4 linked regions of the Homo sapiens genome follow. The protein of the gene in region 4 interacts with the protein of the main gene of each other region in a biochemical or structural test. Each region holds a gene or a part of one and is shown on either strand. Other genes may lie near its edges. The genes, in order: KCNA4, ARHGEF7, ACVR2A and ERBIN.

What was found.
Region 1: the proteins of ERBIN (region 4) and KCNA4 interact in a test that uses a peptide from one of them, tested with the Homo sapiens proteins (3 studies listed by BioGRID and IntAct, with this or other methods).
Region 2: the proteins of ERBIN (region 4) and ARHGEF7 interact in a test that uses a peptide from one of them, tested with the Homo sapiens proteins (2 studies listed by BioGRID and IntAct).
Region 3: the proteins of ERBIN (region 4) and ACVR2A interact in a test that uses a peptide from one of them, tested with the Homo sapiens proteins (2 studies listed by BioGRID and IntAct).

Annotation. Positions count from the first base shown.
Region 1 is NC_000011.10:30,014,021-30,021,571, reverse strand, and holds the start of KCNA4 (potassium voltage-gated channel subfamily A member 4), read left to right. Parts: upstream 1-4,541; 5' UTR 4,542-5,000; intron 5,001-7,551. UniProt on the Homo sapiens protein: Voltage-gated potassium channel that mediates transmembrane potassium transport in excitable membranes. Forms tetrameric potassium-selective channels through which potassium ions pass in accordance with their electrochemical gradient.
Region 2 is NC_000013.11:111,272,307-111,279,332, forward strand, and holds part of ARHGEF7 (rho guanine nucleotide exchange factor 7), read left to right. Parts: intron 1-1,507; coding exon 1,508-1,646; intron 1,647-2,424; coding exon 2,425-2,484; intron 2,485-3,225; coding exon 3,226-3,372; intron 3,373-5,280; coding exon 5,281-5,367; intron 5,368-7,026. UniProt on the Homo sapiens protein: Acts as a RAC1 guanine nucleotide exchange factor (GEF) and can induce membrane ruffling. Functions in cell migration, attachment and cell spreading. Promotes targeting of RAC1 to focal adhesions. May function as a positive regulator of apoptosis.
Region 3 is NC_000002.12:147,848,027-147,855,052, reverse strand, and holds part of ACVR2A (activin receptor type-2A isoform 1 precursor), read right to left. Parts: intron 1-7,026. UniProt on the Homo sapiens protein: On ligand binding, forms a receptor complex consisting of two type II and two type I transmembrane serine/threonine kinases.
Region 4 is NC_000005.10:65,929,563-65,936,588, reverse strand, and holds part of ERBIN (erbin), read right to left. Parts: intron 1-7,026. UniProt on the Homo sapiens protein: Acts as an adapter for the receptor ERBB2, in epithelia. By binding the unphosphorylated 'Tyr-1248' of receptor ERBB2, it may contribute to stabilize this unphosphorylated state.

The sequences.
Region 1 (7,551 bases), on a different chromosome or scaffold from region 4:
AAATGGAATAAAACACTAATTATAGTAAGAAACAAATATGCTCTTCTGATATCTTAAGTTTTGACCAGTGCCTATATGCGTAAGATAAATTAGGAAGTGGTGGTGAACAGTCATTGAAAAACCCAAGAAAAAACTAGCTGAGTGACTCACATTTTATAAGGAATGATGGGCTGATCAAAATATCCCCATCCATAAATTTGGATATGGGAGCATGGAACCAAATCTCCAAGGCCTTCTCACCACCCCCACGCCCATCACTTCAGAACTTTAAAAGTGAGATAGATAGTTGAGAGGCTGGGGTGAGCAGGTGAAAAAGCAATCTTCTAGTTCTCTCACAACACATTCACTGAACTTTCTTGGCAAAGGGAAGCCTCTTCCATTATTCATTCACATTCTACTCTGGGTCAAGTACAACGCTAGTTGCTCAGGATATAATGTCTGTTCTCAGTGAAGTATCACAGGCATGTTTGGGGAGATAGAGGAGTAAACAGAACATTGCAATTCACTGTGGACCACAGTCCTCAAAGAGAACAAAAACATTTATAATGGGCCTAGCTTGTATCCCACAGGGCTTCCTATCGTGCTTTGTACAGAGACGATCTGTTGGCCTCTGCCACTTTCTATATAAGCAAAGGCTTCACGGTGTGATCTGGAACATTTGTACCACCACTGAGAGAATTCAAAGCCAGGGATACATTCTTTGTGGTAATAGGTGTATTTGGTGGTGGAGAGCTTAAAGAATTTTGACTAGTTGATGACTAAGAAAGGCAAGAAAATAATTTTTTCCTCTTTATAGAAAAGAGGGGCTGGGCACAGTGGCTCATACCTGTAATCGTGGTGGGCACTTTGGGAGGCTGAGGCAGGAGGAGAACTTGAGGCCAGTTTGAGACCAACCTGGTCAGCATAATGAGACCCTGTCTCTACAAAAACTAAAAATAAATAAATAAATAAAAATAACTGGGCATGGTGACACATACCTGTAGTCCCAGCTACTCTGGAGCCTGAGGCAGGAGGATCACTTGAGCCCAGCAGTTAGTTTGAGGTTGCTGTGAGGTGTGATCATGCCAGTGCACTCCAGCCTGGGTGACAGAATGAGAACCCATTTCAAAAGAAAATAAAAAGTAAACAAGGTTTGGGGACTAAGACAAGGTAGATTTTTATTGGTCTCAATCAAAGAATCTTTTTGCTACTGTTTATGGGTTCCTAGAAATTCCTAGGATAATTTCAAGGAGAGAAATAGAATGTTTCTTGTTTGCTTTATGAATTAATTATTTAAATGGGCAAAGAGGTAGGGGTGTGTGTGTGCATGTGGTGGGAGAAGGCTGGGAGGGGGCATGCTCTTCCCAGTTGGTCCTAACCTATCTCTAGCTCCAGTTAGTTGCTTCTGTTCCATCCCAGCACTATGTGCCTGTGCATTCTCCATGGCGGCCACTCCAACTCTTATGATTTTTCAGACAGTGCTCTCTCTCCTTGGGAATTCTTGCTTACCGCCTCCACACTAGATGCTGCTTTACTCTTTGCACCAAGGAGCAACATTCTCATACCTCCATCATAACACAAATCCCCTTGCTTCATAATCTGTATATGCATCTGTGACAGCCACTAGCTTGTATGAACAAATGGGCATAGACCACATCACTAGCACGGGGTCAGTCTACACTGCAGAGTCAGATATGTAAGGCCTTGTTCTGCTACATAATTAGCTATATAACCTTTGGGCAAGTTAGCTAATCATTGTAAGCCTTCATTTCCTTTTCTATAAAATAGTGGTTATAATAGTACTTATCACATAAAAAAGCATTTAGTTATGCAAATAAAATTACATAATATACATTCAAAGAACTTAGCACAGAGCCAGGTAGGAGGCAGACACTCAGTTAATCTTACCTGCCTTGCGCAAGTCCTCCTGAGAGTAGAGTTTTTCCTCAGCAGCATTCCTGTCGTATTTTAGTAATTCAGATTACCAACACCTAAGAAATGCAAATATTAAAGTCCTCAGGCATTGAAAACTTTAAAATTATCTGGGATAGGAACAAACAGCAAAAGGGAAGCATAATTCATAAAGTTTAAACACGACTCAATTAAAATATCCAAGCTTCAATACAACTATCATCTCTAGTACATCATTCCATCTCACTTTTCATCTCCCTGAAAGCACTGCATAGCTGTACCGGATTGATCTCATAAACTGCTTTTGGGAAACAGGTCCCAGTCCTGCTTTTTACTATCCCAAGAAATATCCTTCTAATGAGCCAACAATAAATATTACCAGTTATTTGCTTCTGGTACTTATGAAACTGCACAGTGATATCACATTGTGGAGGTACAGAGAGGGTTTGAGGCGAGTGAGCATGATCGTTCTCACTTTTAGAGAAACCCGGTCTTGCTGCTCTTCGAATGAACTGCAGTAGGGAATAAATTGAGGCAAAGAACGTCTCTAGAGCCAGCATGAAGATACCTTTCTCTCAGCTCCACCAGGGTTGAGGCCAGGGGGTTACAGTTAAACTTATTCATGCCAAAATTTCAAGCTGCACTAGCTGAAAGACGTTGGAAAAACCAGGGTGCACTCCAGGTTTCATTTCTTCTTTTTCTTTCACACTGATTACAATTCGATTTTGTGTGTGTGTGTCCGGTTATTTGAAAAGATAAAAGAAAAATCAAACAGCAACAAAAAGCAGCCCTCCAGGTGTCCTTTTCCGAGCCCGCAACGGTTAGGTGAGTGAGTGCAAGGCATATCTATAATTCAGCTCGGGAATATTTCCCTTAATAATTAATTGAGCATCACAAAAGGAGGAGGCCCAATAGAGCCCTTGAACAAAGCTGCCGCCCCGAGGACGACAGTGACAGTCCTGGCGCCAACCAACCAGCCCAAGGTCGGATTTGCTCCAGCAGTCCGGGGCATAGCGCTGCCACTGCCTGCTTGGTCCATCGGGCGAGCTGGGAGAGGTGTCTAGGGAGACCCCGTCGCCACGTGGGCTTCTGGTTATTTGTGTGTGTGTGTGTGTGTGTGTGTGTGTTTGTTTGTGTGTGTGCGCACGCGCTCGCGTGTGTGGGAGTGGGGTGGAGATGGACAGCAAAACCCTTTTTTTTTTTTTTTTTTTTTTAAATGGAGGTGGGCAGTGGGAGAGATCACTAAGATAGAGTCCTCCCGGGAGCCAAACCTCTCGCCCGGTTGATTCTGGCAAGCCTGAGACAGGCAAACTGTCTACTTTCCTGTTTTGATGTGGTCCGAAGAAATAAACAAGAAACAAGGAGAGACCCTTCCTCAAACTGTAACTCCAGCCAATTAGCATGAAAAGCTCAAGAAGCTATTAACCAGAAGTTTCGGCTTTAGGGGACCAGGGACTTGCCCGAGGCCCTGGCATGCGCGGCGGCTAGGTTTAACTTTCAACTCATAGTGACCTTTTCCTTAATTTAATGCAAAAAATCTTTCCCAGAGGTGGAGATTTAAGATGCTAATGATACATACGTCCTATGAAGAAGCATGTTAAACCACCATGCATGCACCAGAAAAACTCCACCTCTACATGCCCTGTCTATAGTTCTCCTTATTTCCCCTTACGGGAGAGGCCCGTAAAAGAAACCCACACCCTGACTTCGAGGAACAGCCCACTTTTTTTTTTCTTGGTGTTAGCTCCCTTGTGCGCACAAGCTTTAATTAAAAGAAAGAAAGAAAGAAAACCAAAAAAACTTGCTTTTTGCTGCGATATCCCTTGATTTCTGTCCTGAAGGATCCAAAGAGCCCTCAGGGAGTCGATACCAGAGCCGTATTTGTTTTTGCAGCAACAGGTTGGCTGCGGGCTCTTCCCCCGCCTTCCAAAGCCCTCAGCCCCTGGCCCACCCTGCAACTTACTCATCTCTCCAACCCTCCTCCCCTAGAACTGCTGCCTCCTGTGCGCAGCCCCTAGCCTGGGCCTGATTCCAATTTCTGTAACATTCCCCTGCCCGGGATTGAATACAGGTTGAAAGTCGGTCTCCTCCGCGCCCCTGAGGCCCAACCCCGGCGCTGAAGCCTCCCAACTCCTGTGTGCAAAGGAGACGGAGACTGAGGGATCTGGGCGCTCTGGCAGGCACAGGAGGGCTCCCCGCCCGTGGCCTCGCCGGAGATGCACCCGGCTCCCAACCCAACAAACCCGCTTTGGGAGGGGATGGGGTGGGGAAAAGAAGACGGGGCTCGGGGCTCGAGGGGAGATATAGAGAAAGCAAGTTAGGTAGAGGAGATGTCCCAGAGGACCCCATTTTCGGGACTGCACCTCCCATTGGAGCTCCCCGCTCCCAAGCCCTCTGGGGACTCCCGCGCTGCCGTCGAAACCCCTATTCCGGCCCCAACGGGGACACTTCTCCAGGATTTGCTCCTCGCCTGTGGGGACCACAGCCAAAGACTCCTGGAATCGATCCCAGATCCTGGGAGTCGGGGGGCCCAGCCGGGGTGCGGGGAGTCGCGGCGTCGTGACTGCACCCGCCCCGCCGCGCCGGGAGGCGCCCCTGGCGACCGTCGCGAACGCCACACCCTCGGTTCGGCCCTGGCCCCGCCCCCGCCCAGAGCGCGTTCGCGGCCAGGGGAGGCGTGTGCTGCTCCCGCAGCCAGCGAGAGCGAGAGAGGGATGGATGTTGGAGGAGGAATTCGGGCTTAACAAGTGATCGCTGCTGTCTAGGATTTTGTTTCTTTTCGGGGGAACCTTGACTTCCTTTCCCAGGCAATCCCTCCTGTGCTGAACTCCAGAGGAACCAGGAGTCTTGGGGTCTTCTCTGGGGCAGCCCCAACCCCCACCCCCAGGCTCCAGCCGCGAGGACTCTGTGCACCCCTCGGGCCAGGCAACAGAACTTGTTCCGTGGATATTTGGAGCCTCCACCTGCCAAACCCGAGTGATTCCTTTTACCACCCCCCGCCCCCCACCCAGGATCATTCTTCCCCTCCTCCAGCTGTTGCAGCTTGAGGGGGAAAAACAAGCCAGCCGGTGGATTTTCTTTATTTTTATTTTTCGCCCCGCCGGGGAACGGTAAGTATGATACCTTTTTTTTTTTTTTTTTTTTTTTGTATCTTTCCTCTACCTTCTTATTTTGGCTGTTAAGAAACAGTGGACATTTGAGGGATAAATAATATCGGGAATGTGACAGAAGGGCATGAATGGAAGGCGGTTAAAAATAAACCAGGAGGTGGGAGAAGGGAGGTGCGGATGCTGCGCGGCGCTCCGGGGGGCCAACAGTTGTTATTTTCCCAAACCCGGGGATGCGGTGAGTGCGCCCTGCTTAACGTGCTGGAGCGGGAACCGAGGTCTGGAGGCGAGGGCGCGATTAAAGATGTCGTTTCCCAACGAGAGGGGGGTTAAGATTTAGCATCGTTTCGCCTCCTCCCAGCCGCACCGGTTCCCTTCTTTTGGGAACAGCCGGTGAACGGGTCTGAATTGCTGCCTCTTCCAACGTTTGGATTTGCGTGCATTTTCCGAGCATTTGAGCAACATACATAGGGGCTGCATAAATGGCGTGCGTTGAAGTGTATATTTCTCACGGTGGTGGCTTTTCTGATTCCCTCTCTCAGTTTCTCTCTCTTTCTCTCTCTCTCTCTCTCTAAGGTTCAGGTACCACCCTGACAGTGACACAGTTGCAGGAATTAGCACTGAGAGACGAACAGCCTTGTTGTTGGAGGGGTGAGAGGAGGAGGGGCGGGATGCTTGGCTGTTGTTTGGGGGCGCCGGGATTGGGGAATAGGTAGTCTGCAAAATCCTATTAGTTTAATGGTGTTAAAGAAGAAGACAAATTCCTCTGCAAAGATCTCTCTCATAAAGGCTCCTGGGAATTGGCTTGAATAGATTCTCCTAACAAGAGTACCTTGAGAAAGAAGAGAGATTTTAAACCAGTCTGATTTGCTGGGAGGAATGATTTTTCTTTTCTCTTCTTTTCTTTCTCTCTCCCTTTCTTTCTAGATCAGGGATAGTGAAGTAACTAGTAGATGATTAAAAGGAAGGCAATTTGCTACTTGTAGGGTGGAGGAGGGAGTTAGATAAACAAAAACTAACAATCCCAAATAAATAAATAAATGTGAAATTATTTGGTGTAGAGCAGAAAGAGGGCAGTTCTAGAACTCCCGAAGAGCTGATGGTGAATTAGAAGACTCGCTAATTCATGACCTTCTGGGAGTCAGTTGGGTGGGAAGGCAGTGTGTGTAGTATTCAACTATACAGGAACTTGGGTTACATTGGGGCTTCATTGAAATTATAATTGTTTTAGGGGAGTTGGGGAAGAAACTGAGCAAACTCTCAGGCTATTTGGTCTGTACCGGTCTTGAAAGGATGTTGGCCTGACACTCCACTGCGAATGTCACCCCAGGATGGTTTTGTAAGTAGGGATTTGGAAACTCCTTGAGGGTAAACATTTCAGAGTATGAGATGATGTTAGGAGTCAGGCAAAGGAAGGGAGATGGCATGTGAGATGCCCTCTGTGGTGTATTTTCTGGAGTTTGTGTTGCAATCAAATGCCCTTCTTGCCCTAGGAAAATATATATGATTGGGAAGGGGTGTATGATTGGGAAGACCTCTGTTTGCCACTTCCATGCTTGTCACTTCATAAAATTCAGTGTGTTTAGGCTTTTAGGCTGACAGGATCAGCAAGGAGCAGCAGGTGGTCAAGAGCTGAATCCTGTTAATGGCTTCAGAAAGCCATTTCTCTTATGCTTTCCAAGTGCTTCCAGTAATAGAAGCTGGTAGATGCCCTGAATTCTGACTATCATCATTCTCTCCAGTTCTCTGGGTTACTCCCTGCATTCTTGGAAGTCCTGTTGAACAGAGTACATGGAAAAATCAAGAGGAGACAGGAGATTTGGATGGGGGCTTTTACAGGGCCTGGCTGAGGAGATGAATTACCTGGATCTTGGGAGAGCAAACTAAGGAAGAAGAAGGGCCAGGAATAACAGGTGACAGAGGGAGCAGATCGGAGCTGCAAGGGACATGCAATTCAGAAGTGTGAGATTGTAAATAAAAGTGGGCAGAGAGAGAGAAAGAGAGAGGAGGGGGGATGTTAGGGATGTGGATTTTATTGAAGTGGGGGTAAGTATGATAGGCTAAGAATGAAGTCCACAGAAACTGACATTTAAAAAAATAAGGAGATAGTCCCTTGAGCAGAGTGGAGGAGGAACCATTGAGGTGAACATGGAGTGACCGCCAAGGAGAGAAGATGGTTATTAGAGATGTGGAAATTGGCATTAGTTCCTAGTCTGTGGGTGGTAGGGAGTGTTCAGGATTCAAGGGAACAGAAAAACAATGGGGACATGCTGTAGGGAGTCAGGCAGTGCCAACTTAACAAGGGCCATTGGTGAGTCTCAGGATGTCTTGTATGTCCTCACGTCCCATCTTCCCCTACTTTAGTTTGTGGCCTAAGGACACAAACACTTGGGGCTGTGTAGATAGACAATAAAAACATAGGTTGCTGTTATGTTATTCATAACTGCCAGTGTTTATTGCCATTCATTAGGTAAAAGGCACTGAGATATTCTATCAACATCCATTATCTCATTTAATCCTTACAAACATGGGATGGGGGAGGTTGTGTTATTAT
Region 2 (7,026 bases), on a different chromosome or scaffold from region 4:
CAAAACACTGTCTGTCTTTTCCCCGGGAGCCCTTGATGGTTCTGGTGTCCCCGAGACCTCTGGCAGTAGCCAGCTTGGCTGGGGTGGTGCGGTGGGAGGCTCCTGTGAGACCAGAACCGGAAATTGGCTTGTTTCTCAGTTTTGCTGTTAGGATTTTCATGTTTATTTTAGGACATCGTTTACATAATGAGGATATAAAAGTATCTTTTCCTTTTAAGGGAAAACCTCTAGACTAGGAAAATTTGTTCCTAGGATTTGTGCCATGGGTATCATTTGAACCAAGCTCTGCTGACTAGAGACCCCTATCTTCTAGGATGGGGCGTGGTGATGGGGCGGGGGTCACCTGGGTCTCCTGGATGGGATGTGGTGACTGAGAAGTCATCCTGGTCTGGACCTGGCATCGGCTGCCAGCGCTGGTGCTGCCTCCCCTCCTTTCTGTGGGCTGTACACTGTCAGATGTGTGGACTGATGGCACATGCAATTTGAGGGACAGCAGACCCAGGGCCTGACAGAGACCTCAGAGATCGCCAGTGAAGGGGTGTTGCGGTCAGGTGACTGTCAGCCTTAACAAACGTGTGGGTGAAGAGCTGGACCCCCCACAGAAGCCTGCCCGTGTCCTCTGCCACAGCCATGGGAACTCTGAGGACAAAGATGACACACATGAGGACCCACTGTAGGGAAAGATAGGCGAGGCACTGTGAAGGGGATGGTTGAAGAGGAATACAGAAAGTTCTAAAACTTGTTTCTGACTCTTTAATTTTGGGATATGCACTGTTTCTATGTCCATACACAGGGACACCTTCCTTCCTTACGTGTTGTGAGGATTGAATGTAACAATGCTTTTGAAGTTCTAAAGCGTAAATCAACATTCGCTGTCTGCACACAGGGACCCCTTTCTTCCTCACGTATTGTGAGGATTAAACTTAAAGCTTTTGAAGTTCTGAAGCCTAAATCAGCGTTTGCTCTCTTCTCTTGCTGCTTCTCGTGCTCCTCACCCCAAGAGCCATTGCCTACTCCCAGGCTGAGTGCTGGCAGCACATAGGTGGGGCCTGCTCGCTGGACGAACTCGCATCTGGGGATGACTACCATCAGTGTGCTCTAGCTCTTTACCGGAGCAGCTCGGTCCTTGTTCTACCACCTTGAGACTCTGAGATTATTGGAATCCATTCTGGCTCTGAGTGTGCATGTTTCCATTGGATATGTCTGCATGGCACTGATGTGCTGGAGGACCTCGCCATCAGTAGGATCTCATGGAGACCCACATGTCCTGTGCTGTGTATAGTTATTGTTGCTCATATGAGAGCAGGAACGGGACCCCTTAGGGATGGGAGTCCCCTTTGGCATTTCCAGATAAGCAGCGCAGATTTGGGATAAAAGCTGGAGCCTTCCAGATGTTAAAAGCAACACTTATGTTTCATAAATTCTGGCTGTTGCTCATGGAGATGAGAGAGCCACCATTGTCTCTCATTGCTAACCACGAGTGTCTCTCTTGCCACTTGCTGCCCAGTGAGGAGTTGGGGGAGTTCATGGAGACCAAAGGTGCCAGCAGCCCTGGGATTCTCGTGCTGACCACGGGCCTGAGCAAACCCTTCATGCGCCTGGATAAATACCCTACGCTGCTCAAAGAGCTCGAGAGACACATGGAGGTACTGCGCTTTCATTCTCTTACTTGGAGTCCTTACCAAGGGTTAGTGGCATGGTCAGACTTACTGTGAAAGAAAGTATTATTCATGATTTATTTTAGAAGCCAGAACCAACAGAGTTTACAAAGAGTTTTGTTAAATATTATGTTTTTCTCCTTATTCCAGCTCTATTAGAAAACATTTACCCCTTATCTCTCTTTTACCCACTGCTGCTGATTGAAAAGTTTCCAAAAGCTGAAACATGAGAACTGATTTTCAGATAGTGTTGAGATGTCTTACCTGGATCATCCAGCTACAAACAATGTGTGCATAGGTTATAGGGTAATACTGTACTAATCATTTGATGAATGATTGTGCTCTTTTAATTTTGAATAACAGGTTGCAGCCTAGCAGAAATTTGGGTTGAAGTTACTCTCTTGGCTTGAGTTGGCAAACCTTTTCTATAAGGGGGCAGACTGTAGGGTCTTCTTCACGGCTACACAGCTCTGCCATTTTAGATACTGTATGTGAGCCGTGGCAGTGTTCCAATAAGACTTTATTGATGAAGCAAGTGTTGGCTTCCCCACCCCTGCTGCTTGTGACTGTTCTCTTCCAACTTATATTTCCCCAAAGTCTAATGGCTTCGTGATTTGCTGAAAGACTGACACTTTAATGCTGAGGGAAAAAGGGAATGTTAAGGGTTGAAAAGTGTTAGAAAAGTTTCAAGCTGGTCTGTAGAAAGTACCTTTTTAAGAAAAGCTTTTCCTTATGAAAGCTAATTGTATGTTTCTTTTACTCAAAGGATTATCATACAGATAGACAAGATATTCAAAAATCCATGGCTGCCTTCAAAAACCTTTCAGTAAGTGATTAAGCATATTGTTTTCCCCCCCAGACATTATTGTGACAAATGAATGTAAAAGAATTATCAACTGAAAAAGTCAAATGATTAAAAAATGACTTGTGCTGACATGAAAGAAAAACAGAGTCGGCATTCTGTGGCTGGTAAACTCCTTTTAGTGGACTATGATAGAATAATTATTTAAATTTTTTAAAGTCACTGTGTAATTGATGTTAGATCTACTTTAAAATTGTTTAAAACATTTTTTTACCCTTCATTCATGTTGTCTTTAATGATTTATTGCAAAACAGAACAATGGTGGTTCCATTTTCTCTGCTGTTGTGTTGTCTTACCAACTGCGTTTTGGAAATATATGGCCTTATTTTATAGCACAAGTTATACTTTCTGTTTCTTCTTTTCAGTCTTCCATATTGGCAAACACGAACAAAACCAGAATGAAAATACAGTTCTTGTCCTGTCCACATTTCTTTTTTGTACAAGTGGCAAAATGTGCTCTATCTTTCTAAAATAATACTTAGTATTCCAGAGCAGTTGTGTGTGTTGCTTCTCTTAACTTGGTTTCATACTTCTAAGCAAATACTTTCAATTCCCTATAATTAAGCAAATCGCTCAATAAATTATCTGTCTGAAGAAGTAAGATATAAAGCAATAATTGTCTTAAGGATGATACAAAGCAATGTGGCCGGAACTTAACATTCTGAAAGTTTATGTCTGTTAACAGTGTTGTTCTGTGTCTGTCAGGCCCAATGTCAAGAAGTCCGGAAGAGGAAAGAGCTTGAGCTGCAGATCCTGACGGAAGCCATCCGGAACTGGGAGGGCGATGACATTAAAACTCTGGGCAACGTCACTTACATGTCCCAGGTCCTGATTCAGTGTGCCGGAAGTGAGGTACTGCTGCCCACATGCACGCACCAGGGTTTCTGTCCCACTCTTAGGAGCTCATAGCAGAAGATTTTAAAGGCATCTCAAGCGATGAAAAATGTCTAATAGAAGCTCTATCTTATAATTTGTGAGCTACTTTTTATTCTTGACACAGGAGAGAGGCTTATGGCATGTTAGAGAGGCTTAGAGCTGAGTGTGGACTTGTTGATCAGTTTGATCCAGCTGAAGTCAGTGTGGCCCGAAGCCCACGTGAACTGAAGGATAGATAGTGTGCAGAAAGACTTGCAGGAGTCCTGTGCACACATCCGCATGGAGCTGTATGCGCTTATCTGGCCAGCAACTTTGTACCAAGGCTCACTCTCACAGGGACCTGCTGCTCTCAATGCTTTCGGGTCATTATACTTTCCTGTGAAAGTATGCTAGCTGACATATGCTTACAGGAGTCACAGTTTTCTTACAGGTTTGGTTTAAGTGAGAGATCAACCCAGATTTTTGGGACATACCCACCCACACAGTGAAAATCGAGCAGTTTGTTTCATGATTCACATTGACATACATTCAATGGGTCACTGAACAGGCACCTCTTTCTGAATTTTATTCTACCTTTGCAAAAATAACATGATCAAAACATGCGAAATGACTCATTTTTGAACACAAGACTCCAAGGAGAATAAGAAAACTAAAACTTCAAACTTATATAGTGTGTTTTCCTTTCCACCTGTAAAATATCACCCCTTCTACATAGTCTTGTAGTTTGGGTACCATAAGAAACCATGATTATAAAAACTTCACATCTTTTCAGAAGAAGTTTCTTTTTGAGTCATGCTCTTTTAAACTTTAATCTGTGGAAACATTTCCCAAAGTGTGTTCTTTATAATATTAGATCTATACAGCACTGGTGGGTGTTACTCCAAAATGCTTCAGAGTGGTTCTGATCACGACTGAACGTAATTAGTGGAAAAGATTCTTTATGATAGAGCTCCTCAGAGACTTGGCTGTGAATGTTCCCAATGTATGTTGTGATTCTTCAAGAGGGGAATATAGCAAGTCGTTCTCAGTGACTTCTTTAAAGTACGGAAGACTCTTTTCTCAAGGTGCTTTGCATAAGCCTAATGTTCTGAGGAATATACTTGGGGAAACTAATTCCTAGGACTGATTTCACTTTTTTGGGCCGTAGTTTAAATGTCAACATGTGAAAAGGACTGTGGCATTTTTTTGTCTCTTTTTGGATTCTTAGGAACTTTTTTCTTTCACTTATGGTCTCTTTGGCTTTTATCTTACTGAAGCAAATGATTTTTAATACATAAGTAATACTTTTAAGTCTGATGTAAACCAGGTGATGTTTATGGGGTGGATGAAAACAACACTGAGTCGACATTTGGGAGGTTTGGGAAGTGCCAGGAATTACTAGTAGACCAAAATTGATTTTAACATTTTATCCTTTCTTTAGCTTAAAGACTCCACCTGTTCCCCCTGACCCCATTAAAATTTATAGGTTCTCTCCTTTTTCTCTGAACCAGAAAAAGAAAATTTTAGCTTACCTGAAAATAGTTAATCACAGAGCTGAACTCTTTAACCAAATATAGTTTCAAGATGTTACACAGGCTAATTGTGAGTCCAGGATCTTTTAATCAGTCCGTTTACTTTCTTACCTTTTGTTTTTTGAAGAATTTGGAAGTCCTTCTCTTTACCTATATGTTAAAGCTCTCTCATAATCATATGTTAAGACTTAATACAGAATTTATCATAATTGTTTCCATTTAATTTACCTGATAAAACTTGATAGAAATACCTAAACGAGAAATATCATGTAATGTTTCATAGGGCCTAGTATAAATAAGTGAAGTATTTGTGCTCACATTTGTTAAGTAGATGTTTTTTAAGAAATGTTTTGGATTTCTTTTTTTGTATTAGGAAAAGAATGAAAGATATCTTCTACTCTTCCCAAATGTTTTGCTAATGTTGTCTGCCAGTCCTAGGATGAGTGGCTTTATCTATCAGGTAAAACACAATTTAAATTTATATTTTATTGTGGATCTGAGGATAATTTCAAACTGGCTTTGAATTTTGTGTTAAATATTACGTGTATCTATCTGTGTATGTGCTGTGTGTGTAGTGCTGTATATTCAGATATGGACGTACAGCTCCTGTTTGTGTTTCGTTGTGACTGCAAGCATATCCTATGTTAATTTCAAAAAAGGAAAGAAGTGTAAACTGTAGAGCAACCTCATAAGGACACAGACTACTGTGGCACAAGTCAGTCTCTGTCATTGCCTTCTGTCGTTTCATGCAAAATACCTTGCTCCTCCTTGCTATGGTTTTATTCTGTGAAATTGGTTCAAGTAGGGCTTGTGGGTTAGTGGGGTAGTGTAGACTAAGATCTTGTGTCAGTGGCACGGCACCGCCCAAATGCATCAGCAAACAGAAAGTGATGTAAGGGTGTAAGTAGCAGTGTGTGATCGTTGAACCTTTTTAATTTTTGTTTCCCTGCTTCTCTTTGAGAAAATGTGACAGCAGATTTGGGAAGGAGGTGCAAGGGTGAGCAGGGCCTTTTCTGTTGCGACAGTGGTTTATAGTGGTGGTATATGAAGGAGCTGGTATTTTCGCTGTCTGTCTAGTAGATGCACTTGGCAGGTTTCATTCTTCTTTTTCTGGGAAGTTACAGAGGCTCATATCCTTCCCATCAACTTTCTGAGGACTGGCCAGTCACCACGTAACCACTGCAGCAGAAGCCGCCACTTCGTGTTCTCTGGGTTGCATTTCATTGTAGCACGTGTTGTTTTGTGTTGGCGCAGCAAGGACGTTCAAGATCCCTAAGCAGACACTATGCCCTCACAGAGGCTCTGCCGACACCCAGAGAGGACTTGTGGCCATACGCTTACACCAACACACGTGCTTTAGAATTGGTGAATCACATATGTAGGAACAGACTCAGGAAAGTGAGGCTGTAGTTTGTTAGGCCACTGCTGAAGAGAGGTGATCTGTGGCTAGGATAGTGCCCACTACAGTTTCCCCCAAACTAGCAGCTACTTCTGTGTTAAATGACCTTGATAAACCTAAATCTCTGTCCTTTCTGGTCAGCACTATCTGGCTTCCGATTTTATATCCCCAGAATCTCATTCCAGTGGCTGGAGGCAGGGGCCTTCTCTAACCTAAGGAGAGAAGAGGTTGTCACTTGTGGCAGGCTTGAGTCTCTGCCTGTGTGGCTGGTGCTTACACTGGATTTGCCCTTGATGTGTTGACAGACTGCTGGAGCTCATCTCAACAACAGGATTTTATTTTTCCATTCTTAGCACAGTGGTGACCCATGGTCTCTGTATCATTGGTATCCGTTTCTACCATTAGAACACTGGCTTTGGGGGATGCCAAAAAGTGTTCGGTCCAGCCACAGTCATAGTGTTCTATACACCGATGTTCAGAGGGGCTAGGTTAAACACAGTTGTGCGGTTTCATTTTCTGTAGGACTTACAGCTGTTAAAGTACTTATATGCATTACGAATCTTGGAAAGGAGTTCACAGTGTGTAGCATTTTTTAAATACGCTTGGCCACAGAAGTGTCCAGCAGTCTCCTCTTCCACCGGCCATGCTTTAGGATGAGATTTCTCAGCCTGGGCACTGCTGACGTTCTGGACTGGATCGTTCATGGCCAGGGGCTGGGGG
Region 3 (7,026 bases), on a different chromosome or scaffold from region 4:
AAAAATTAGCCAGGCATGGTGGCGCATGCCTGTAGTCCCAGTTACTCAGGAGGCTGAGGCAGGAGAATCACTTGAACTGGAAGGCTGGGGTTGTGGTAAGCCAAGATTGCACCACTGCACTCCAGCCTGGCCAACAGAGCGAGACTCAGTCTCAAAAAAAAAAGAAATAGGCAGATAAAGTAAACAGATGTGATATGTGATAAGGCAAATAAAGAGTAATCCTCTCGGCACCCTGTTAGTTTCTGTCCGAGCACGTATGACAATCTGTAATTATGTTGTTCATTTGACTACTTACTTTATGACTATAAGCTTCAGAAAGGCATAATCATATCTGTCTTCATGTTTAATAATGTATCCCAAGCACTTACCATAGTGTCTAGCATGTAGTTCAATATTGATTTGTTAAGTGAATGAATACCTATTTCACCCTCTTTAATTTAGGGTGAGTAAAGTGAAATCTTAATGGCTGTCAAAGGTCAAAGAAGAGTCAGTAGGAAAGTAGGAATTTGAATGACAGACTCTTAAGTTTTAGTCCAAAATATTATACCACATTCAAAATATTGATCTCAAAGTACAGTCATTGAATAGCTTTGTGTTTTCAAAGCTTAAAGTAGCTGGTACCTAAAAAACAGACTTGAGAATCTTTCAAAACTTTACTTCTACTAAAAAGTTTTAAAACACTTAAAAAGTTTAAGAGAAGTTGTCCAAGAAAAAAAGATATTTTAAATTCCCACTAATAAATAGAGACGATTTAGTCCATTGTTTCTTTTTAATGCATGCTAAAACAGTGAGACCTTAAAGAACTCTTTGTAAGGAACCACGATATCTGAATATTCTAGATATTTATTGGCAGCTATCTGGCTCTCTATAATGATATGTTCTTTGGCTGTATCATTTAGTCAGAGTATTATTTCACATTAACTGACTGATAAGTAACCTGCAAATGTAAATATCCCCCAAGAACCAAATCTATATTTTTTAATGTTTTACATACCATATCCTTTTAAATGGGACTTAAAGATAGATTAAAAACTAATATGTAAGATCTACTCTGGACCAGCTACCATGTTATGTGGAGTTATCAATTCATTTAATACATCTTGGTTTACAAATTTTAAAAGTTAATCTCAGAGTTTTAGAAATGTGCCAAGATCTCATAACTTGTCCATGCCCCTTCCTCTTGAAATAATGCCTTGGAGCAAGCTTGATATATCACATATAGTTATGAAGATGGGAAGAACAATAAACTTTTCCTTTAAAATAAAAATTTTAAAGTTAATAATCATAACTACGAAAACTCCTCCCTCTAAGCTTTATAAATAGGCTTACTTTTATTACAATATGTAAAGACTTGATTCATTTTTAAAATCTTTTGAAAGGCAACCCCTCCCCACATGTGTAGCCAGTCCTTCTAATGTAGTAACTCTCTTCTTGCTTTACATTTATTTTCTTTAGCAATATTAGAGAATAAAGTAATTCCCAGTGTGACTACAGCCAACCAAAGAAAAAACTAGTCCAAAAGAATGGTCACTGAAAAGTTTAGGTTTCAAGCGTGAATACCATATACCAAATTCAGAAAAGCATCTAAATCTACTTCCTTAGAACAGTGTATTTTACTGTAGGGTCTCATACAGATTTCAAAGAATATAATCTGGATGACCAGTATGAGTAATTACTGAAATTTGACCATCATTTAAACATAAACAACATATTGAGCCACTAATGTTTAGAATTCTTTAACTAGACTTCACAATGAAGACATATCCATCATACAGTGTCTGCCTCTTTAAGAGAATATTACGTTATCATGTTTTATTATGTACTCTTATTTTTCCAAATACATGTCTTTATTTCTATTCATGCTTATCATCTAAAACTATATCTATCTGTAAACTTTTTTAGTTATGAAGGCACTTTCAATTTTCCTCTGGCTCATTACTTCCTTACCAATTTTATTTAGTAGTGCTACCATTCTACCTTAGTCTTCGAGTTGCTTTTCAGTCCTATATCCACATATGGGGTATTTGGGACATACATCAGGATATGTATCATCCACTCTTACCTCCTCAGTTTTAATTACTTTTCATTTGAATTTAAGGGTTAACCCCCTGAGATTGTCCTACTTCTTCAAGCAATTGTGAACTCTCTTCATCACACAAATCTCTTCCTCAGATTTAGTCAAAATTTCTCCATCCCACCTTGCCTTCATCCATGGTCAAGTTTACTCTCAAATGGCTATTGTGTTCCTGATGCTATTTTGTGTCTTTTCCTTCATATTAACATCCTTCCTAATCTCCGTCTAAGACTTTTTTTCCAGTACTAAGTCCAGCAAGTCTTTCCTAAATTAAAAAATCCCAACTCCCCAAAATTACAATCTAATGTTGTTTCAGCGCCTTCGTGTGTGCTTAATTTATTCGACTAGTCCAAAAGAGAGAAGACCTTAATCAGGGAAGAGCCATGTTCTCCCTTGAGACCAGTTTTCCCTATATTCTATACCTAGGCACACAGTCTCTATTGTAGATTAATTAATGACCATATTTTTCAGTGCATATATTTTTCATTGCACACATTTACATATGAAGCTTCCTTTTCCACTAAGAGAGTACTGAATACAGGAAATAAGGATTGTTGAACTAGGTCACTGGTTTTAGGGATTTACAATCCATTAGTTGGTCAATGAATCAATTAATGGGTCACGATCAATGTTTTTTAAATGAAATGTAATATAAAAATACATAAGTGTCCTGCACATAGTTAAGAGTACACAGTTCATGAAACTTTCATTTCTGATGCACACAGACATATATACATACACCCCTACTACTACATGGGAACTAAGTCATAATGCAATGTGTAATTCCTATTGTGTATTACAGTCAAAAAAGTATGAAAGCCATGGAACATGAGGATACCTAAGATCCCCTCTAAATCTATATAATTCAAATTCTAATTTTAATTATTTAAAAAAATTTAAATTTGAACATAACTTAAAGATATCAAAACAATGAGCAAAATCATCTTTTCTTAATAAAATGTCACCACTGAACTCTAACCTTAAAATTATAGAACCATAAAGCTTTCAGAGTAGGAAAAAAAATCAGGGATCATCTAATCCAAGTTCACCACTTCAATACATTAAGAGGACAACCGTGGCTCAGAGAAGTGAAATAATTTCATTTCATTCATTTAATAAACATTTGCTGAGCACCTATTGTGTACCAGGTTCCAGGAATGGGTGTGTGGATAAAGGAAAGATGTCTTCAAAGAGTAGAAACAGGAAAGTAAACATTTGCACAGTCTAAAGTGGAAACAGGCAAGTAAACATTTGCAATTATTACTGAAATCAAGGTCATTTACAAGGTGTTAGATGAACAGAAAGCAACTAACTCAATCTGGGTTGAGTGACAGAGAAAATGTTTCTAAAGAGGTGATACTTCTCAGTCTTAAAACCAAAAAGGGGTTAGCCAGGTAGAAGAGGAAGAGTAATATGTACAAAGGCACCATACTGATATACAATAAAGGATTACACATTTAAGAAACTGCAAGTCAAGTCTGTATGGATGGAATATAGTACTCAGGCTGAGGAGAAGCTGCAGCAGAATAACTAGCATTTAATATTCAAACCACTCTCTGAGGTAGGCACTATTAATATCCCCCCATTGTGTAGATGAGAAAACTGAGGCACACAAAGGTGAAGTAACTTGACCAAGGTTAAGTTATGAAACCAAGATTTAAACCAATTAGGTCTATATCCAGAGTCTATACTCTTAACCAATACCAAGAGGTTAGAAAAAATAGGCAGGAACCAAACGATGAAGGACCTTTTATGACATTCTAAGACTTTAGATTCTATGCTAAAGGTGACTCACAGTCAGTGAAAGGTTTTAAGCAAGGGTAACATATTCAGATTTATTTTTTAATAAGATCACTCCAGCAGCTATGCAGATGGACTAGAAAGAAAAGGAAGTAGTGATAGGGAACTGGTGAATCTTAGCTAGAAAAGTGCTACAATAATCAAGTAACAGAAAATGATACATAAGCTAGATACTGGCAGCACTGACACCACAGCTCAAGTCTACCAACCTCTACGACCACATTCTTGATCACTATCCATATGAAGTTTCCAATTCTTTCCCTTAGGTCCACCACTCTAACAGTTCAAAAAATCCAATCTCAGAGACAAAAACATATTTCCTTTAAGTCCCTTTATTAAAACAAAGCCTGACCTCTAGATGCACTGGGTATACAAAAGTGACTAACAAGAAATCTAGGTGGAGAATGACAGAAAGTCACTTGCTATCTACAGTAGTTTTCTTACCTTCTTGATTTCTCCTCCTCCTCCTCCTTCCTCTATACACTATTCCTGGAATTTTCATGTTCAATAGTCAATTTGAAATCAATGTTCTGTCTAGACATGACTATTTTACAATCTAACAGAATTAAATCTACCACAGAGGAAGTCTAATGTGGTCCTATCAGCAGCAATAAATATACTCTTGGTTCTAGTCAAATTTTGGCTTAAACAGAGATGATAAATGAATAATAAGATGAGCGAAACTTTTTCTGAAGCAGCAAAGAGTTAAGGAAAACCTGAATATTAAAAAAGAGAATAAGAGCAATCTAAAGTTCAAGCCATTTGATTCTAAGAGAGTAACACTATTCCCAAGAGGGTGTGCGAGGTAGTCCAGAAACCAGTAAATGAAAAAACAGTGGAAAAGACTATCTGGTCAATTCTCAAGCATTCTAAATTCAATCTGTTTTCATTAAAACTACGGGTAAGCCCTCTGGAGTCACCCATGATGCTAAGCCACAACTGGGTTCCACAAGCAAGCAGTATAAGGAAGTACAGAAGGGTCAGGGGAAGAAAAGGGAGTAGACAAAGAAGGGAGGAAAATGGAAAGGGAACAATAATGAAAGGGAATGGAAAAAACAATGAGTTACAGAGCAGTGAGCAAAAAGCTAAGGCATACCAGTGACCCCTAGTATCAAATGTTGCCAACCTTACCTATAATCTGAGACAACATGGCAACTGGCAACTTAACAGACCATGAAAACACAAATTTAAATCATTGGACTCATGAAATATCAAAGATGAGAAAATCATAGTAGCACTTTAAAAAGTCAAAATGCAACAAAATAAAGTCTTGGAATCTAAAGAAACAATTTAGAGATTACTAAAATCTCATTTGGTTTAGTTGTGCTTCTCTTAAGAACAGTGAGTCTGGTGGACCCAAAAGGCGAAAATGTCAGTATCAGAGAGAAGGGTATGGAGAGGTGTGTTACAAAGACACTGTGAGGCTCATTTGGACACCATTTGTGGGAATGACTTCAGAATTTTCCTCTCTATGGTATAATGCTCCTTAATTTGCTAAGAGTTTCACTGTAATTCTTATCTTGGTTGGCTAGGTTAACTCCCTTAAAACCAGAGTTCAAAACAAGGTAAGCATTTTATTAATTATGGTCAAGATTTAGCCTTAAAAAGGGAAACGATCTGCAATAGATCATAAAATATTACTTACTGTATCATGAATTAGTCTAACGGTAACCAAAACCCAGCTAGTGATTCTCAAGATAATTATGTAATTAAGAGATTAGGTTAAAAGTTTCTTGAAATTAAAGTTAGCTAGACAAAAGAAATATCTTTTTTAAAAAAACAGAATTTCTACCTTGAAACTATTCAGGGAACATGTAATAGTGAACATATTTCAGGCAACATGTTACACACACACACGAATACCGCCATAAGGCAGCCCAATGATGTCAGTAAAAATAAAGGCAAATATCCTTAAAGATCATATCATGGCAAAGAAAATCCTGGATCTAAAGCAAATATAATTAAACTTGATACCTTAACCAATCATTCATTATGTCCAGGAACATGCAGTCTTCATGAGCACTCTATCAAAATCGGTGATAGGAGAGTTTATCCATAAGTCATTGGAATATTTTATTATAGTATAAAATATTATACTATACTGGTGAATTCTCAAGCATTTCATCAAGGATGAAAGAATGTGCGTATCTATAGTCTGTTTCTCTAATTTAATCATATTCTAATTTAAAAGATAATGAAAAGATAAAAATCTTTCAATACAACGTTACCTGGAGATCATCAATACCATGTACTTGTAAAATTTAGATTACTAACTTTAGGGGGAAGAGAGCAGAGCCCTTTTACTAATAAACTACTGCTTTTAAAATTTAAGAGTTTAGAACTGAGTTTTTCCTTTTTTTTTAATTTGTATTTTAGGTTTGGGGGTACATGTGAAGGTCTGTTACATGGGTAAACTCGTATAATGGGGTTTGCTGTGCAGATTACTTCATTACCCAGGTATTAAGTCCAGTACCCAATAGTTATCTTTTCTGCTCATCTACCTCCTCCCACCCTCCATCCTTGAGTAGACCCCAGTGTCTGCTGTTCTGTTCTTTGTTTTCATGTTTTCTCATCATTTTGCTCCTACTTATAGGAACATGTGGTATTTGGTTTTCTTAGAACAGGGTTTTTTGACCTCTACACTACTGACATATTGAGCCAGCTAACTCTTTGTTGTGGAAGGCTGTACCATGTATTTTAGGACGATTAGAAGCATCCCTGCCCTCTACCCAACTAGATGCCAGTAGCACACCCCGTCCCCTGTTGTGACAACCAAAAATGTCTCCAAATGTCCCATGGATGGGGATCTGGGGAAGTAGGGAGGGGGACTCACCCCAGCTTGAGAACTGTTGGCTTAGATCATAAACAGGAAAAAAAAATAGAAAATGAATGGAGGGAGAATTTTGTTTCATTTTGTTTCTAGTCTCCATGTTTCAATGTATTATATTTGAATTTGACCACAGACACCATTTATAAGAGATTCTGCCTTTTAGAAAACAAAGTATTTATCATCCATCACTTGTTAATCAAAGTTCAAAAGAATCCCAAAAGATTCTCTGTAATGCTAACTCCCCCTCCAACCACACATACATTCACACATACACAGTACTGCCTAGCTGAACTGAAGAAAACATAATTACCATATTTCCATT
Region 4 (7,026 bases):
AGGAAAATAAAGATGACTCCTAGGGTCCCTGGCTTGGGAATGGCTTTTAAAAGAGCAGACAGGACCCTCTGTTGATACCAGGTATCCACGACAAATCAAAAAGCATCTACTATATACAGTCCCTGCTATTTTGCAGTCAGCATCAAGACAATAAACTAAATCTTCTGAAGTCCCCAGGGATTAATAGGGCACCCAAAGGATCCATTTGATGCTGCCAAGATCCTTATCTTTTCCTAGAAGACTGAGAGATTTATTCTAGTCTCAAAGGATATGCCTCTTAAATCACTTCCAAAATCTATAAGGAAGAGGAAAGTCAAACCAACTTATTCTAGGTTGTGTGATAACCTTGGCAACAAGATTCATTTTTAGATCACTAGTTTCTTGCACTGGTCCTACTACAAACATACCCTCCTCTCCCCACCCCCCCTCCATCAGACCTCCCTCCATGCTCCCACAAAGAGTCTAGAGTGACCTAAGGTGTGAAATTCCAAGAACACCATTATTAGGTGCTTCAAGACTTCAGGATCATGCAAACAATATAACCTGAATATATGAAAACCACAGCTGGGTGCAGTGGCTCACACCTGTAATCCCAGTACTTTGGGAGGTTCGAGGTGGAAGGATCACTCAAGCCCAGGAGCTGGAGACCAATCCTGGCAACATAGTAAGACCTCTACCTCTATAAAAAATAGAAAAATTAGCTGGGCGTGGTGGCATATGCCTGTAGTCTCAGCTACTCAGGATGCTGAGGTGAAAGGATTGATTGAGGCCATGAGTTCAAAGCTGCAGTGAGCAGTGATCATGCCACTGCACTACAGCCTGGGCGACAGAGCGAGACCCTTCTCCAAAAAAGAATAAAAAAGAAAAACACAACTGCATCAAAATCACTGCACTCATACTGAAATTGAGCAATTATCTCCACAAATAACTTGTCCAATGTAAAGAGTAAAAGTACTGGATTTCTTCCATCCTCCTTTCACAGTCGCCTCAAGAATTACTAAGGAATGAAATATTTCACATAAATGTACTTTATCACGGAATTAAAACTTGCCTTTTTACAGTTTGGAATTTTATCTCTTTAGAAATACTTCAGAAATTAATTGGACTGCAGACACTTCTGGCTCAAAAATGTTTGAACAAATGTTTACCTTAACTTCCTCACACACATAACATATGGAAACAAAACTATTTCTCACTGTTAGAGATAAGTTACAAGTATGGAAAGGGGAAAAAAAACAACTTAGAGTGAACCTGGTGGTGCTGGATTAGAATTGCATTATAGAAATATGCAGATGCTCCTCGATTTACAATGGGTTTACATCTGGATAAACCCATCATTTAAGCCAAAAATATCACAGGTTGAAAATGCACTTAGTACCCCAATAAAACCCCTGGTAAAGTCAAAGAAGTATAAATCAGGGACCATTGTATATATTTATAGATATATAAATAAAAATAGATGTAAATATGTGTAAGTACATAAAAATATTTCCTAGCTTTGTATATGAAGAGGGCCTGAGAGTAACAATACCCTAAAAACAACAATGTACACAAGCCCCAGATCTTGGCTTCTAAGTATCATTTTCCACTAAAAACAACCAGGAAAAGTAGAAGATATGTTAGAACATCTAATTGTGCTAAAAAACAAGGAGTACTCAAAAAAGGAAGAGGTATCAAAAACAAAAAAGAAAATAAGCCAGGGGGTTCTCACTGGCCAATCAAGAACAATTTGAGCACCAAAATAAATAGTAATGCATTATGTCCTTGCGAAGATAAACCTAGGTACATGTAAATAAGTGAATTTAAAATATGACAAACAAAACAAAATATTTACATAGTTTCAAAGCACCTACCGCAAAATATTAGTTAATTACAAACAGGGAATGAATACCTTAAAAAGGGCAAGTCTGGCAGCCACAACTTTAATCACATAAAGTGAATACCATAATAGGACACACTGAAATTGCCTGCCACCTGATAAGACGTAATAAGAAGAATGCAGCATCACTTTTACAATAACCCTGCCAAAGATCTAATCATAAAAATCTAATCAAAGATCTAATCATGAAAAATATCACACAAATGAAAATTGAGGGGTATTCTACAGAATAACTAGGCCTGTCATCTTCAGATCTTCAAAAGTGTCAAGGCCTTGAAAAAAAAGAGAAAGAAATTATTCCAGATTGAAGGAGAATAAAGAGATGACAACAAAATGTAACACATGATTCCAAACTGGAATAGTTTGCTGTAAAACACATTATTGGGATAATTGAGGTTCAGATGTTAGTAATATATTCATGTTTACTTTCTGATTTTGATGGTAATGATGTCATTATATGCAGGAGAATATCCTTGTTTGTAGGAAATAAACATTAAAATATTTAGGGGTGACGGGCTGGGCGCGGTGGCTCACGCCTGTAGTCCCAGCACTTTGGGAGGCCAAGGCAGGCAAATCATGACATCAGGAGATCAAGACCACCCTGGCTAACACGGTGAAACCCCATCTCTACTAAAAATACAAAAAATTAGCCAGGCGTGGTGGCGGGCGTCTATAGTCTCAGCTACTTGGGAGGCTGAGGCAGGAGAACTGGCGTGAATCCAGGAGGTGGAGCTTGCAGTGAGCCAAGATCACGCCACTGCACTCCAGCCTGGGCGACAGAGCTCTCAAATAAAAAAAAATATATATTTAGGGATGACGACAGGGCATCATGTTAGCAACTTAGTCAAATGGTTCAGGAAAAAAAATGTTCAAACTTTTCCATATGTCAGTCATTGTTTCAAAAATTAAAATTTAATTTAAAAATATCTATAGCAGTGCTGAAAACCTGGGAGGGGTATACCTACAGATAAGAACAGAACGGAATTTATAAAGAATACAAAGTAGGCTGGGGTCGGGGAAATAACAAAATGCAATACACTTGAGGAACCAGACACCCAAAACAAGAAGAAAGTGGGATCTCCAAAAAAGATGAGTTTTCTTAGCAAGAAGGATTAAGAGAAGCATATCCTGAGCGGTCAGCCAGAGAGCAAAACCATAGTAAAACACTGTGTAGCTAAAGCCTCTAGTACAGCTCTATGTATGTAGGAGATGTGACACTTGGACAGTGTGATTATGAAAAAAGGAGACTGCCTCCTGAGGAACAGTAAGCACCTGTACCAAAAGGTCAAGCTACCCACATACCTTCAAAGAGAAACTCGTTAAATATTTCTCCCTTTCCTCTTCTAAGCAATCACCAAAGCCAGAAGAAGGATTCATTGGGCTGGGAACATATATTTAAATGACCAATACAGTAGAGACTAGGTCATCATATAAAACTTTGACTACCATGAAAATCTAGTATTTGAAGAAAAAACAAAAAGCATGACATACACCAAAAGCACAGTAAGATCAAATTTTCTGTAGTGTTAGTAGAATAAACAAAAGACAATGTTAAAAGAACATCTCAGAGATTAAAGGTTACATGCAGACCAAAAATAGGGCTAGAAAACCAAAATTGGGCCAGGTGCAGCGGCTCATGCCATAATCCCAGCACTTTGGGAGACCAAGGAGGGAGGACTGCTTGAGGCCAGGAGTTCAAGACCAGCCTGAACAACAGAGCAAGAACCCATCTCTACAAAAAAAAATAAAACATTAGCCGGGCATGGTGGTGCATGCCTATAGTCTCGGCTGAAGGTGAGGTGACAGGATAGCTTGAGCCCAGGAGTCCGAGGCTGCAGTGAGCCGTGAGTATGCCACTGCACTCCAGCCTGGGCAACACAGTGAGATCCTGTCTCAAAAAAATAAAAACAAAAATAACTCCTATGAAAAACTAGAATTCTTAGAAACTCTGTTCCAAAAACAAGTAACAAAATAACTGAAAACAAATGAAAATCAAGTAAGTGGGCTTAAAGATCAAGCTTCAACACTCTCCCAGAATCCAATACGAACAGACAAGAAAAAAAATTTAATTAATGAAAGTTCCATAAATCCCAACTTCCACCTAAGTTCTTGAAGTGCAGTCCATAGGCCCTGGAAGTCCACAGTCTCTGGAAGTCCCTGAGACACTTTCAAGGAACCTTCCAGGTCAAAACTGTGTTTATAATATTGAAATGTCATTTTTCCCTTTTCCATTATATTTACATTTTACACTGATGTTGCAAAAGCAATGGTTGCAACAGCTAACACCTTTACAAGAACAAAGGCAATGCCTTCAAGCTGCAATAGTACCACTACATATTCCCAGGTTTATGTCTTTTTTTTTTTTTTTTTTTGAGACGGAGTCTTGCTCTGTCGCCAGGCTGGAATGCAGTGGCGCGATCTCGGCTCACTGCAACCTCCACCTCCCGAGTTCAGGCAATTCTCCTGCCTCAGCCTCCTGAGTAGCTGGGATTACAGGCGTTTGTGACCACACCGAGCTAATTTTTTGTATTTTAGTAGAGACAGGGTTTCACTGTGTTGTCCATGGTCTTGATCTCCTGACCTTGTGACCAGCACTTTGCGCGGTGGCTCACGCCTGTAATCCCAGCACTTTGGGAGGCCGAGGCGGGCAGATCACCTGAGGTCAGGAGTTCAAGACCAGCCTGACCAACGTGGAGAAACCCTGTCTCTACAAAAAATACAAAATTAGCTGGACATGGTGGCGCATGCCTGTAATCCCAGCTACTCAGGAGGCTGAGGCAAGAGAATCGCTTAAACCCGGGAGGCAGAGGCTGCGGTGAGCCGAGACTGCACCACTGCACTCCAGTCTGGGCAACAAGAGCAAACTCCATCTCAAAAAAAAAAAAAAAAAGAAAGAAAAGAAAGAAAATCTTCCTCCCTTTTCCAACCAAATACCTGTATAAGGCTGGATTTTCTTCATATACTTTAGCCAAAAGAACATACTGTAACAGATGGAGTGAAGAAGCAGATATGAGAATCGAGCTGTTTTCTATTAAGCCAAACATAAGAGACTTGCAAAAATATAAAACATTGCCACTATTTTTGCTATTTATTTTAGAAAACAATTATATTTTTATTAAAACAATGTTACACTAACATGCAATAGCTTATTTTCAAATAAATTAATTTTTTTTAATTTCTGTTTTGAGTCAAACCAAAAAGTCTGAGAACAGCTGCCTTAGGACTATTACTATTTCTTGTAATTATACCATATTATAACAGAGTGAATCCTCCTACAGGGAAATGAAATGTACAAGGCACTTAGCCTCAAAGTAAGTTGTCCCAGATTATTTTCTAAGTTATTCAGTCATCTTTCCATTTTTCTATTGCTTCACTGTAACACCACAGGTCATAACTTCACAATGCTGTAAACGTACCTTTCTCACGCCTTCTGGGATACCAAAGAACCAAAAACAGCTCATTATGTACATAAGTAAATGGGCTCTGAATAATAATGGCCCTAAAAGTGAAGTCCCCAGACTCTGTCATACCTGTTGTGATTAAGGAGATGTCATTTTTTATTTTCTAGTTTTTCTACTACATTCAATATGCTTTTAAAGCTATAATAAATAACCTCCAGATAAGTAGAGTCTTATTAAGTGAATTTTTAGATATTCTCCTTTTCTATCGTCTTCCACAAAGTGAATTTTTAGATATTCTCCTTTTCTATCGTCTTCCACACTATCACTTAAAGCCTGGCAAGACCTTCATTCAATGGTGTCTGGAACAAAATTTGAAGTGACAAAAATAGAGTGATAGAGTACTATTGTGCTTATTTCATGAAATCAAAGAAAGATAATTTCAAAATTTTAGGGATTCTGTGTCAGAGAAGACATCTAACTTGAAAGGTAGGACAGAAGAGGAAGGTACAGAGAAGAAGGAACAGAGAAATATATCTGTATGTTTTAAGAGGCCAAAAGTATAATAAAACAAGAAGGTAGAGAGGGTTACAAAGTCTTAATACATAAGAATAAATAACAACCTGGTATTATCTTAACAGTCAATTTTAAGAACACTAAAGAGAAAAAGGAAAACTGAGAAAACAAAGTATAAAACAAACAATGGCCGGGAGCGGTGGCTCATGCCTGTAATCCCAGCACTTTGAGAGGCCGAGGTGGGCAGATCACGAGGTCAGGAGATAAAGACCATCCTGGCTAACACGGTGAAACCGCGTCTCTACTAAAAATACAAAAAAATTAGCCGGGCACAGTGGCGGGCGCCTCTAGTCCCAGCTACTCGGGAGGCTGAGGCAGGAGAATGGCGTGAACCTGGGGGAGGCGCAGCTTGCAGTGGGCCAAAATCTTGCCACTGCACTCCAGCCTGGGCGACAGAGCAAGACTCCATCTCAAAATAAACAAAGCAATATACTGATGAATATAAAGTTAAAATACCAGCATGTACACTTAGTTGAAATGCAAAGGGGATATTCAGAATTAAATGGGCTAATAAAATAAGATCAGATAAACTTTTTCCACTGCATGTTTTGAACAGTTTTTTGAGGTGATAAACATAGACTAACAGTTTGGAAAAGAGGGAAATGGCAAAATATAATTAAGAACGACCAACTGAACACAGAGAAAATAAGGCTAGGTAAATGAAGCTAACTATAAATATAGGAAGCTAAGGGAATCAGAAGAGAAAGCTGAATAGCAGCTAAGTTTCTTTTTTACAATTAGGAAACCTAAGAAGAGACAGCTAAAAAGTGAATCTGAAAAATGGGAGTTAGCAGTAGGCCGGGCTCAGTGGCTCACACCTGTAATCCCAGCACTTCGGTAGGCCAAGGTGGGCAGATCACCTGAGGTCGGGAGTTCGAGACCAGCCTGGCCAACATGGCAAAACCTGTCTCTACTAAAAATACAAAAATTAGCTAGGCATGATGATGTGCGCTTGTAATCCCAGCTACTTGGGAGGCTGAAGCAGGAGAATCGCTGGAACCCGGGAGGTGGAGGTTGTGGTGAGTCGAGATTGTGCCACTGCACTCCAGCCTAGGCAACAGAGCAAGACTCCATCTCGAAAAAAAAAAAAAAAAAAAAGAGGAAAAGACAAAGACATCTTTAGAGGTTTATAATAGAGATGTATTCCCAGAAAAAGAAAACGGAAGCAAGCAT